Linked DNA regions of Homo sapiens: all the other regions are linked to region 2. The links come from fine-mapping of genetic effects on gene expression. A gene starts in region 2. Each other region holds a variant in brackets. All regions are shown on one strand. Distances are between the middles of the regions. Region 1 overlaps RNF213 (ring finger protein 213). Region 2 holds the start of RNF213 (ring finger protein 213). Region 3 overlaps RNF213 (ring finger protein 213).

What was found. PIP is the estimated chance that this variant, and not a neighbour inherited with it, causes the effect.
Region 1: its variant is the best candidate, but not a certain one, in a credible set for the expression of RNF213 in whole blood (INTERVAL, PIP 0.67).
Region 3: its variant is the best candidate, but not a certain one, in a credible set for the expression of RNF213 in subcutaneous fat (TwinsUK, PIP 0.71).

Annotation. Positions count from the first base shown.
Region 1 is chr17:80,374,868-80,379,037 of GRCh38, forward strand. It overlaps RNF213 (ring finger protein 213), which reads left to right. Exons shown (of 68, transcript NM_001256071.3): 51 at 893-1,003; 52 at 1,434-1,676; 53 at 2,015-2,096; 54 at 2,895-2,929. All of the region lies in intron 1 of RNF213-AS1 (RNF213 antisense RNA 1), which reads right to left. Among named protein-coding and RNA genes, the nearest start is that of ENDOV, 38 kb to the right of the region's middle. RefSeq lists a silencer at 1,689-1,889. The variant A/G (reference allele first, on the strand shown) is at 2,100.
Region 2 is chr17:80,259,094-80,263,263 of GRCh38, forward strand. RNF213 (ring finger protein 213) reads left to right here and starts at 1,759. Exons shown (of 68, transcript NM_001256071.3): 1 at 1,759-1,809. RefSeq lists silencers at 1,138-1,487, 1,767-2,116, 2,497-2,636.
Region 3 is chr17:80,283,127-80,287,296 of GRCh38, forward strand. The region is part of intron 3 of RNF213 (ring finger protein 213); the gene reads left to right. Among named protein-coding and RNA genes, the nearest start is that of RNF213, 24 kb to the left of the region's middle. RefSeq lists an enhancer at 1,608-2,168. The variant C/CT (reference allele first, on the strand shown) is at 2,548.

The DNA.
Region 1 (4,170 bases), 120 kb after region 2:
TGCCCATTACTTCCTTTGAGACCCTGCTGGAAAACAGTCTAAGAAAGATGCTGACACAACTATTAATAGCAAAATTCATACCTAGATGTATTCATAATTCAGATATGCATGTGTGTTTAATAAAAATACATATGTTGGTGTAGTGTGGGAAGTTAAAAAATATAAAGATGTTTTTAGAATCTAACCTTTAAATTGGTCTGGTCTTGCTTCCTTTTTGAGTCCCTGTGCCAGGAAAAGAGGAAATGGAAAATCCTCTTTCTGCTCAGAAGTTTCTAAGACCAGTGAAGGAGTCAGAAGAACAGATGGTGATTCCGTTGCTTCTGTCATTAAGCTGGCTGCTAAATATGCGTTGAGTTTAATCTGAGAGTATTTCAGGAACTTTGTAGCCCAAAAGTTGCTCGCCAGAAGACTGCCCATGTGGGGCATGACCCCAGGTGTCCAGGCCTGGAAAAGGCTCCTTCCCTTTTGGTGGGTTGAGGGCTGAGGCATGTGAAAAGTTTCTTTTCACATGCAAACTTCGTGGGCCTCTGGCCCTTAGGTAGATCTGGCAGGCAGCGGTGCGGGGGCGTCTATCCTATAATCCTAGCACTTTGGGAGGCCGAGGCATGCAGATCACAAGGTCAGGAGTTTGAGACCAGCCTGGCAAACATGGTGAAACCCCGTGTCTACTAAAAGAAAAAAAAAAAGAATTAGCCGGACATGGTTGCGTGTGCCTGTAGTCCCAGCTACTCGGGAGGCTGAGTTAGAATCGCTTGAACCCGAGAGGCAGAGGTTGCAGTGAGCCGAGATCATGCCACTGCACTCCAGCCTGGGTGACAGAGCAAGACTCCATCTCAAAAAAAAAAGATGTGTTGAGCTTTTAAATTCTTACTTGATACCCTTGATTTTGCAGGCCTGCAAGACCCCCCAAAGCCAGCAGTCAGCCTACTTCCTGTTAACACTGTTTAGAGAGGTGGCTATTTTGTACAGATCCCACAATGCAAGCCTCCACCCCACGCCAGAGGTGAGTAACCGCCTGCAGGGCTGTGTTCAAAGTCTCAGTATTTGGAGGGATTTTATTGAATAGAATGAAAGTTATCAACACAAATCATACCATAATTTTTTTATCTAGGATAGAGGTTCTCAACCTTGTTATGTGGAGGAACACATAACCAAGCTGTTTAACCCAAAGCTTGTAGAATTATAATGAAAACTAAAGCCAAGAACATAAGATAATGTTTAACAGAATAGAATATCAAAATTAATGCTTACGTATGTGGATGCTGTGTTTGTATATGCACAATTCTCTTCTCTGAAAAATTTCCCCCTCAAATGGTGGTGATTTCTCCATATTTACCTTGATATTTGATGTGTATTTGGTGTCAGTGTATGTCTAAGAGCAATTCACACAATATTCTTTGATACATCTTAATGTTAAGTTTTTTTCCTGTCAGCAATGTGAAGCTGTGAGCAAATTCATTGGCGAATGCAAGATCCTTTCACCTCCTGATATCAGCCGTTTTGCAACATCGCTCGTGGACAATTCTGTGCCATTGTTGAGGGCGGGGCCTAGTGACAGCAACCTTGATGGAACGGTGACAGAAATGGCCATTCATGCTGCAGCCGTCCTTCTGTGTGGACAGAATGAACTCTTGGAGCCCCTAAAGAATCTGGCCTTCTCCCCAGCCACCATGGCGGTAAGAGTAGGCCACAATTCCATCGGCCTTCACTGGAACACCCCCCAGAGCTTGTCACTGTAGAGACCGAGCTGCAGCTGTGGGAACTCTTGAGCATCTTTATCTCCTCAGTTCTCTGCCTTTGTGTCACCTGATTCTTGAGCACACAAGATAGTGACAGACTTGCCTTGCCCTTTGTTATTTCACAGGAAGCTGTTCTGTTTTCTTCACAGACAGCTTGAGAAGTCCAGCAGAAGGAAAGCAGAGTTCCCTTTCTTCCTCTAGGCCTCCTGCTGAGCAGCAGCACCCAGGTGACAAGCTCACTTATCTAGAGCTGTCTCTGTCTTCTTGTTTTTCAGCATGCTTTTCTTCCAACCATGCCTGAAGACTTGCTGGCTCAAGCTCGGAGGTGGAAGGGTCTGGAGCGAGTCCACTGGTACAGTA[A/G]GTGTTGGGGTCTAGATGACCCCACACTCCTTTGAGCTTCAAAGGGTGTCCAGATGCTATGAAGCATTGGGTTCGACTTGGGGTCCACGTGGTTTGTGCCTCAGGGTCCAAAACCACCTGCATTCTACCGGTGGCGTCTGCAGAAGACGAATGGCTTGAAGGAGCTGGCACTCCGCCGGCTAGATGATCCAAACCATTTCATTTCTTTGTCGTGTGGAAAAGGCCCTCTGTGATGCACTTCTGTTCTCTGGAATATGCCATTTTGGGAGAAGGGAGGGACTGGGAACCACATCAGAGACGCATTCAAAGGCCCACCACAAAACAAAGTTTTTGACACAAAGCTCTTCTGAAATATATGAAATATAGAACCGGGAGACTGACTCATATAACCCATGACATGTAAATTTTGCTGTTGCCTGAGTAAATATTTTAAAACTAGTTTTTAAAGTTGTTATAAAATATGCTCATGACAAAAAAAAAAAAATCAAGGAAAATAGAAAGGTCTAGAATCCTGTCCACCTTGCCTCCAAAAGTACCCCTGGTATGGGCCTATATTCTAATTGCTCTTTACTTGATAAAATTAATAAAATTAGACTCAGACATTTTTCACTGACAACATACATTTATTAAGCTTCAGGCAGGTGTCATGTAACTTAACAAATTAGCGTGGGATGCTCTGGACAGTCATTCTCATATTGTGGTCAGGGCCAGAGAGTAGAGAGTTAGCTTTCCCTTTTCAATGTGGGTCATTGGGTGAAACCTCATTAGCCAATGTGTGTCCTGTTCTCTTCACAGCTTGTCCCAACGGCCATCCTTGCTCCGTGGGAGAGGTGAGTCTTGGTATTTAAGATAGGGTTTGAGGGGTGGCGTGCACTCCTGGGTTGGAGGAGGGGGATCGTGGGTCAGGAGAGTGAGGCTCTCGGCCTTCCAGGAGAGCACAGGCTCACCGAGGACTGCCCAGGGTGCTCTGAGCAGGGCAATGCCAATGGCGCTAAGGGTTTCTAGCCCAGGGCTTCTCAGACTCAGCACTGTGGACGTGGCTCTGCGGCGTGGGCTGTCCTGTGCACTGCAGGCTGTCTGGCAGTATGCCTGACCTCGAGTCCCTGGATGCCAGGAGCACCCACTCCTCCCAGTGTGACAGCTAAAACCAGACATTGACAAAGGTCCCCTAGGAAAGAAAATTGCTACTGGTTGGGAACTGCTGCTAGCCATTCTTTCTAGCCACTGCAGCATGGGGTCAGTGAGCCTTGTCTTGATAGAATGGCAAGGTGTTGCCTGGACCACAGGCTGCATTATTAGCCCTCAGAGGAGGTGTGGTCCAGATGCCAAAGGAAAAAGCCACGTGTAGGCTGTGCGCCATGGGGGAAGAACTGTTGATTATTCCTCTCTGGATTCCCAAGCATCTAGCCTAGAGCCCTCCATACACAGTATCTGTACTTGCTGAGCAAGAGGCTGGTGGGTTGAGCTGACACGTGGTAGTTAGTTATTAGTATTACTTACTTGGTTGAGATATGTCTGGCTCTCTTACCCAGGCTGGAGTGCAGAGTGACATGATCATAGCTCACTATAAACATTGAACTCCTGGGCTCAAGCGATCCTCCCGCCTCGGCCTCCCAAAGTGTTGGGATTATGAGCCACTGTGCCCAGCCTGATACACGTCATTTAATAATGTATATAAGAGATACGGAGGGAGAAAAACTGTTACATACACTTCATTTTTCTGAGCTTCAATCACTTCCTTGTCCATGAAATGAGGACGCTGAAATAGAGTCTATCCAAGAATGCTCCCAGCTCTGAAATTCTGTAACTGGTTTGGTGTGTTATCAGCCGTGACTCTCAGTATATTGTGGCACAATATCTGATTTTGAAAAATAAGCCTTTGGAAGTAGATTATGTGATTAGATTTTTTTAAATAAAAAAGTCCAAGCCAGGTGTGGTAGGTCACACCTGTAATCCCAGCACTTCAGGAGGCTGAGGCAGGTGGATTGCTAGATCCCAGGAGTTTGAGACTGGCCCGGGCAACATGTTGAAACCCCGTCTCTACAAAAAAACACAAAGCATCAGCAGGGCA
Region 2 (4,170 bases):
GCAGTCAAGATTGGTGGGAGGAAAAAGCAGGTTTTAATTGGAGACCCAGCAAAGCGAGAAGATGCCCAACTAGCGTTCTAAAGTGTCACCTTGGCTGGGCGCAGTGGCTCATGCCTGTAATTCCAGCACTTTGGGAGGCCAAGGCAGGTGGATCACCTGAGGTCAGGAGTTTGAGACCACCCTGGCCAACATGGAGAAACCCCGTCTCTACTAAAAATACAAAAATTAGCCAGGCTTGGTGGCGGGCGCTTGTAATCCCAGCTACTCGGGAGGCTGAGGCATGAGAATCACTTGAACTGGGAGGTGGAGTTTGCAGTGAGCCAAGATCACGCCACTGCACTCCAGCCTGGGGTATAGAGTGAGACTGTCTCCAAAAAACAAACAAACAATAAATAAAGTGCCACCCTAAAATTAAAAATTTATCCTCAGGTTTTGTGTGTTTGTTAGTTTTTGAGGCAAGATCTCACTTTGTCATCCAGGCTGGAGTGCAGTGGTATGATCACGACTCACTGCAGCCTGGAGCTCCCTGGGCTCAAACGATCCTCTTGCCTCAGCCTCTTCAGGTGCACCACCACGCCCAGCTAATTTTTTTAAATGATTTTTTTTGTAGAGATGGGGTCTCTCTATGTTGCCCAGGCTGCCATCGAGTTCTTCTAGGGAAACTTGCCGTGGGCACCGTGGGGAGTGGGGTAAGGGCAGGGTCTGTGTCTTGTTCCCATGGCTGTCGTGGGCAGTTGTCGGTTAGGAGGGGTGGCTGTCGAGGATGTTGGACTAATTGTTGGCGACCCCCCGCCCCAAGCAGGAGCATTCAGCTGGGGTTCCGCGCCGGGAATTGTTTCAGGATGAGGGTCCCCTCTGGAATGCGCAGAGGGGCGCAGTGTCCAGAGAGGGACGGGATGAAGGGGTGAGAGGAGAAGGAAGAAAAAGAAAGTGGGTGATTTTAAAACGGAGGTCCCTGGTCACACCATGAGCCTCACAGATGGGAAAACTGAGGCACGGGGGATGGTGCGGACCGCCGTGGCCCCTCCATCATCAGTGACAGAGCGCTCCGCGCGGGGCCGCGGAGGTCCCTTAATCTGCAAAGGCCCCCACGCGGCGCGCTGACGACGTCCACTGCACCCGCCGGGCGCCCTCTGGGCCGCTCCCAGGCTGGCCGCCGGCTCTGCGCGGCCGCAGACACTGTCCGAGGTGCTGGGCGCCGGGGCGGGGGGCGCGCCTGTCCCGCCCCACTCGGCTGCTCGGGCCTGCCCGGGGTCTGGGCTTCCGGGAGACCCGCATGCGCCCCACGCCTGGCGGGAACCGAGGCCCCTCCCGCGTCTGTACCCGGCGCGCAGCGGCCCGAGGCGCCTCCCGGGGGCTGGGGGCCCGGAGTCACTGGGAGGCGCCACCGGCGGGGAATTCCGCACACGCCTGCGCGGGGCCGGCGGCGGCGGCGGGCAGGGCGGGGCCGGCGGCGGCGGCGGCGGGCAGGGCGGGGCCGGCGGCGGCGGCGGCGGGCAGGGCGGGGCCGGCGGCGGCGGCGGCGGGCAGGGCGGGGCCGGCGGCGGCGGCGGCGGGCAGGGCGGGGCCGGCGGCGGCGGCGGCGGGCAGGGCGGGGCCGGCGGCGGCGGCGGCGGGCAGGGCGGGGCCGGCGGCGGCGGCGGCGGGCAGGGCGGGGCCGGCGGCGGCGGCGGCGGGCAGGGCGGGGCCGGCGGCGGCGGCGGCGGGCAGGGCGGGGCCGGCGGCGGCGGCGGCGGGCAGGGCGGGGCCCAGGGCCCCGTGACCCGAGGGGCGACAGCGCGCGGCAGGCGGCGAGCTCGGGGGCCGCAGGTGCGAGCGGGCCTGGAGAGTCTCCCGGGGCGGGGAGCGGGCTAGGATACAGTGGGCCCCGCGGGCCGGCGGGCCGGGTCCCGGGGAGCGGCGCCTGCGTCCGGATGCCCCTCCCGGCCGCCTCTTCCTGCCGGCTCCAAGTTTCGGTTTCGCCGCCGGGGTGCCCGGTCCAGCCCCGCCCGCGGCGCCCACTGACCCTGTTCCCCGGCTGCGGGAGGGGTCGGGGTGGGGGCAGCGGGCACGCCTGGGACCCCGGCGACATCCCCGGAGCGCAGAGCGCGGAGGAGGCTTTGCGCCCCGGCAGTGCTGCCCCCGGGAAGTGGCCGGGGCACGGGGGGTGTAGTGGAAGGGGACAGCCGGACCCGGGCCTGCAGGTCCGCCCGGGAATCCTGCGCCTGTACGAATGGCAACAACGGAAAAGTGAAGTTGCAAAAACAGACTCCTAACTTTTACGAGGGAGGCATCGCCCCGTCTGAACCGCACCGCGCAGCGTCCTTCCGACTTGGCGAAGTCGCCCGAGCGCGGGGCTCAAGGCCAGGGTGGGCACCCCTCCCGGATGGCTGCCTGCAAGCCGGCGGGCCGGGCCCTGGGGGAGTCCAGGGCGGGAGGGGAAGGAGCTGTGCAAACATGGTGGTGGCCCTTCCCTGCCCCCACCTTGTTGACTTTGGTTGTGGTTGGGGGATGGGCTTTGATTTGGGTGGCAGTGTCTGTGCTTGGGAAAAAATGTCAGAGAAAAGACAGGAAGCGGATTGAATGCAACAGTGTTGGGTGCCTGGGGCTCTCTCTTGTGTCTTCCGGCCCCTAGAGCAGATGGAACAATAAGATGCTTTAGGGGGCCGGGCGCAGTGGCTAATGCCTGTAATCCCAAAACTTTGGGAGGCCAAGGCGGGTGGGTCACCTGAGGTCGGGAGTTCGAGACCAGCCTGGCCAACATGAAACCCCGTTTCTACTAAAAACACAAAAAATTAGCCGGGTGTGGTGGCGCATGCCTGTAACTCCACCTACTTGGGAGACTGAGGCGGGAGAATCGCTAGAGCCCGGGAGGCGGAGGTTGCAGTGAGCTGAGATTGCCCACTGTACTCCAGCCTGGGTGAAACTGTCAAACAAACAAAAAATGCTTTTTGGAGGATTTTTCGAGTTTTCTGGTCTGTGGTTCCCCAGTGTAGCATTGGAGAAGGAAACACTTCGGGTGGAAAGAAAGAGGCCTGGGCGGTGGGGAGTCATTGAAGGTGTTTGAGGGAGGGAGTGTCCACTGGTGGTTGTTTCAGGTAGAGTGTGGAGGGGAGGAGGTACGGTGGGAGCCAGGGCTTGGCTGTGGCAGGGGTAGGGGAGTTTTAAACTCTCCTTCTACTCTGAAGGAGAGATAATTTTAGTCTCTGGAATAAAAGGGCAGCAGACCTGGAGAAAAGGGATGCAAATTGTCCCATACACCTATTGGGAACCTCATCAAAGAGAAGACTGCAGAAGACAGATGATTGATGTTTTTATGGCATTGGGACAGGGGCTTGGGGCTGGAGAGGGGAGGTGTGCAGGGTTGTCTTGTTGTGCAGATAATCACTCAGGTGATCTCAGAGCTGCTCTCAGAGGAACTGGCGAGGCCGCAGGCACTCCTCTTGTGTGTCCCTGGGACCGTTCCTAGATCCCTCTAGGCAGATAATGGGGCCTCAGAGAGAGCTTCTGCTCCATTCTGCTGTTTCATGGTGTGGATTTCCTTTATAGCCTTTTACAAAAGGATAGCTTCCCAGAACTCCTGAGTATGTGGTTGCTCTGAATAGCCATCTCAAAATTGACCACAGAATCTGTTTTGGGGTGGCATAGATTAGTCTCCCACACAGGTCAAGCCAGGGAACCCCACCCAGTGCCTCCGTCCCTCGTTCAGGCCCAGCCTGAGTGAGCCCACCCCAGTGGGAGGAGAGGGCAGGGCCAGGGCAGGGAGGGGGCCTGAGTGTCCTCCTGGCTGCTGAAGGCACCAGTCAGCTGCCGCTCCAGCCACTGCCCCAGTGGAGTTCTTTGGTTCCAAGCCAGCAGAAGAAGGTGGTGGGTGGGCCAGTGTGCCCTGAGGCTTCTTACTGGGGAGGGAGAGAGTCAGGTCCTCCACTGTTAGGTGGCCAAGCGCCCAAACGCCATCTCCACTCTCACCCTGGATGCAAGAAGTGACCCCGGAGGCCTGAGTCCTGGCCTTGGTCTGGTTTGATGCCATCCACCGCAGAGGCTGTTCTGAGGGCAGGTGGTCAGTGCAGAGTGGCGCGCTTTGTGGATGGCAGCCTCCCCCCATTACTAGGAATCTGACTGCCAGCCCAGTAGCCCTGGGCTGCCTGCTCAGGCCCCATCACCTGTGGGGCAGGTGCTTTAGTCCCCTTA
Region 3 (4,170 bases), 24 kb after region 2:
GTTCGAGATTCTGGGTCAAAGAAGACTATGAAACTGTTCAATGGAAAAGCAGACAGCAGGAGGCACTGGCAGCACAGGGCGCCTACCAGGGCACTCGGCCAGTCCTCACCGAGAAGTAAGTGGTCCCTAACTCAGGGCCAGGTGGCAGTTCACACGGGAAGAGCTGAGGGGGTGAGCCTGGGGCTGCTGCTCCGAGGTGTCAGCCCTGCAGGTGTGATGATGTCAGATGGTTGGTTTTGTTTCTATTGAAAAGAGGTTCTGGGATGGCGGCTTGAGGGCAGTGGTCTTCCAGGAACTGGATCACGGTCCCTCCAAGGGTCTCTCCTGCAGTTGCGTCTGCGCTTACTGCAGTCTTTCCACAGCCCCGTGTTGTGGGCAGAGGGAGTGAGGCCAGGCCTGGCTCCTGCCTCCAGCCTCCCCGGGCTCTGCCCAACCTCCGTGTGCTGCTGCTGCTGTTTCTTCCTGGCTGGCCACTCCCCTCCTGCAAGGCAGGCCCTGGGGAGGGGTGCTGGCAGCTGTTCCTAAGGTCTGAGCCCTTTGCTACATCAAGGAAAGAAGCGGTAGGGGGCCTGCATCTTCCATGCTGGTGGGAGGTGGGGGGTGGTCAGGGGCCTGCCTCAGTGGGCTCCTCCTGTTCCGGGCTGTGACTCGGCGGTCCAGAGCCTCAGGATTCTCCGTCTATTTCTGCCAGAGCCTGATTATGTCATCGAAGCTGCTAGAGCATCCATGACCTTGGCTTATTTTCAACTTTCATAATTAGGGAAAAACTTAATTTGAGGTTTGATTATTTTAACCATTAGAAATCTTTGGGTAATGGCCAGGCACAGTGGCTCACACCTGTAATCACAGCACTTTGGGAGGCCGAGGTGGGTGGATCACCTGAGGTCAGGAGTTCAAGACTAGCTGGCCAACATGGTGAAACCCCATCTGTACTAAAAATATGAAAATTACGGCCGGGCACAGTAGCTCACGCCTGGAATCCCAGCACTTTGGGAGGCCGAGGCGGGTGGATCACCTGAGGTCAGTTCAAGACCAGCCTGGCCAACATGGTGAAACCCCATCTGTACAAAAATACAAAAAAAAAAAAATTAGCCGGGCATGATGGCAGGTGCCTGTAATCCCAGCTACTTGGGAGGCTGAGGCAGGATAATCACCTGAGCTGGGGAGGCGGAGGTTGCAATGGGCTCAGATCATGCCATTGCACTCCAGCCTGGGCAACAAGAGTGAAACTTCGTCTCAAAAAAAACAAAAACAAAAACAAAACAAAAATAGCTGGGCGTGGTGGCATGTGCCTGTAATCCCAGCTACTCAGGAGGCTGAGGCAGGAGAATGGCATGAACCCGGGAAACAGAGGTTGCAGTGAGCTGAGATTGTGCCACTGCACTCCAGCCTGGGTGACAGAGTGAGACTCCATCTCAAAAAAAGAAAAAAAAAAAAGCCTTTGAATTGCAAATAATGGAAAGCCCAGCTCCACCTTTCTAATCCCATTGAGGAAGTTTATTATGGACACACCTGATGAGCCCCGAGCCTGTAGGTGAGGCTTGGTGCAGGCGTCTCCGGCCCTGTCTACTCTGCCTTCCGGACGGCTCCCCCACTGAGCCTCTCATCAGCTGTTTCCCGTTACTCCCTCGTGCCACACAGTGGCTTCCCCTGTGATCCACCTGCTACTCTGTCCTTCAGGGGACAAGACAGCGCCTCCTCTGGTGATTGATTCCTCTGGAGAGAGGAAGCGCTTCCTCAAATCTCATTGGCTCTGATTGGCTCACAGGCCAATCCCCCAGTGGGTCCCTATGGCCAGGATGATAGACATCAGTGGTTGACACCAGCCCACGCACAAGAGCTGCCCTTGGGGCTAGAGTAAGGCTGATGTTACTCAAACCATGCAGCCGATAACAGGGAGAGCCAAGGGACCATTCCCCAGGATGGGCCATCCAGCGCTGTCACCAGGTGGCCACAAACACCTGCTGTGTGTGGACAGTGACCATGACCACAGCATCACTGATGGGGGCCTTGCGTGTACCAGGCAGTGTCCTACAACTCTCCGTGTGCTTTGTCCCATTTGGTCACCCTCAGTGATGCTCTGATGTGGACACATCTGCTGTCTCCACTTTAAAGATGGGGAAACTGAGGCCCACGGTGGCTCAGTGACCCACCTGGGGTTGCCCAGCCATTGTAGCATGGGGTGAGCTGGATGGGAACTCAGGCAGGCCCTCTAAACCCAGCCCAGACGCCACTGCATGGCAGCCCCGGAGGTACCAGGCAGCTGGCCGGGCAGGGACGGCGTCATCGCCTCTCCGAGGGGAGGCTGTCTTCAGGGCTGGGACCCCACCTGCCAGGTCTCCTCAGCACACTGAGGACGATGGGTGCCTGCAGTGAAGGGTTGTGCAGCACCTGCCTGTTTCTTGACGGCCTCTTGCTTCCCCCTCTCAGCAGGTCCCCCGGCAGCTGACCAGCCTGTCATTCAGAGGCTGATACCTGCTGATGACGCCACTCTACAGTGCTGGGCCCCAGCCCCAGACTCTTCTTCTGCAGCTGCTTCTGCAGTTG[C/CT]TTTTTTTTTTTTGTGAGATGGAGTCTTGCTCTATTGCTCAGGCTGGAGTGCAGTTGCGTAATATCGGCTGACCGCAGCCTCTGCCTCCCGGGTTCAAGCAATTCTCCTGCTTCAGCCTCCCAAGTAGCTGGGATTGCAGGTGCCTGCCACCACGCCCAGCTAATTTTTTGTGTTTTTAGTAGAGATGGGGAGGATCTCACCATGTTGGCCAGGCTGGTGGCGAACTCCTGACCTCCAGTGATCCGCCTGCCTCGGCCTCCCAAAGTGCTAGGATTACAGGCCTGAGCCACCGCACCTGACCTATTGTTTTATTTTTGAGATGGAGTCTCACTCTGTCGCCCAGGCTGGAGTGCAGTGGCCAGATCTCAGTGAGGCCCTGTTTTAGAGTCAGCCTGCGCTGGGAGTGAGTCTCCTCTGTCCACACCCAAACGCACCAAGTGTGCCATTTCAGCAGTGGTGCTTGCTCCCTGGAATGGGACCAGGTGCTCTCAGCGGTGTGGTGGGTTGGTGGCCTGGGGTTGGTGTCGGACGCAGGCCGGTGTTGGACGCAGGCCGAGCGGGAGGCTGGAGCCAAGCTGTGGCCTGGGGAGATGTTATGGGTCGGAGGGTCGGGGGGTGGGGGCGCCTCCTGTGCTTTGTGTACACTGAGCATGGGTTTCCTCTGAATTTAAAAAGGAGGAGAAAATCGGAATTTCTGGCCCTGGTTCTGGCAGGAAGTGTGGCCATGTGTGATAGAGAAGGGGTTGCAGTGTCGGCCTGGCCTCCTGGAAGCCCTGGGATGCAGCCCTGTCCAGCTGCGGCCTCGTCATGCCCTGGGTGGGTGGGAACGCAGCCTCCTCCTTGGGCCACACAGGGGCCGACCGTCAGCCGAGGGGCTCCTGAAGTGGCAGTGATGGGATCCTGTGGCGCTTCCTCATCCCCTTGTTACCAGTTGCTGAGGAGAGGGTGGATTAGCCCCTGGGCTGCACCTCAGTGTGTGCAGGTCTTCCCAGGTATGTGGGTGCAGGAGGTGGGGGGCGTGGAGTGGGCACAGGTTCACACCTGCTGCCTGGCAGTTTGGGGCCCTCATCACACACCACCAGGTTTCAGGGGATCTACAAGTCACTTTCCTGTACTGACCTGATCCACACGCACCCCTGAGTACTGCCCCCTGGGAGATGCCTGTGGGGTCCCAGGGTCCTGGCAGCCTCCTCCCACCAGCCGCAGTCCTGGTTCCAAAATGGGGACCGTACACCTGAACCTGGATGTGCCTTTGAGCCTGGCTGTGCCTGCTGAGGGTGCGGTGGGAGCTGCTACTCATTTTTTAGTCTCATCCTTCTCATTTCAAATTTTATGTACGAAATATTTTTATAGAGGTGCATAAAACGTGGAAAGCCTGTGTGTGCTTTCTAATGTTCAAAACCAGGCCAGGCACGGTGGCTCACGCGTGTAATCCCACACTTTGGGAGGCCAAGATGGGAGGATTGCCTGAGCCTAGGTGTTGGAGACCAGCCTGAGCAACATGGGAGACTCTGCCTCTACAGAGCATTTTTTAAAACCAGCTGGGAATGGTGGTTCGCGCCTGTAATCCCAGGACCTTGGGAGGCCGAGATGGGCAGATTGCCTGAGCCTGAGATTTCAAA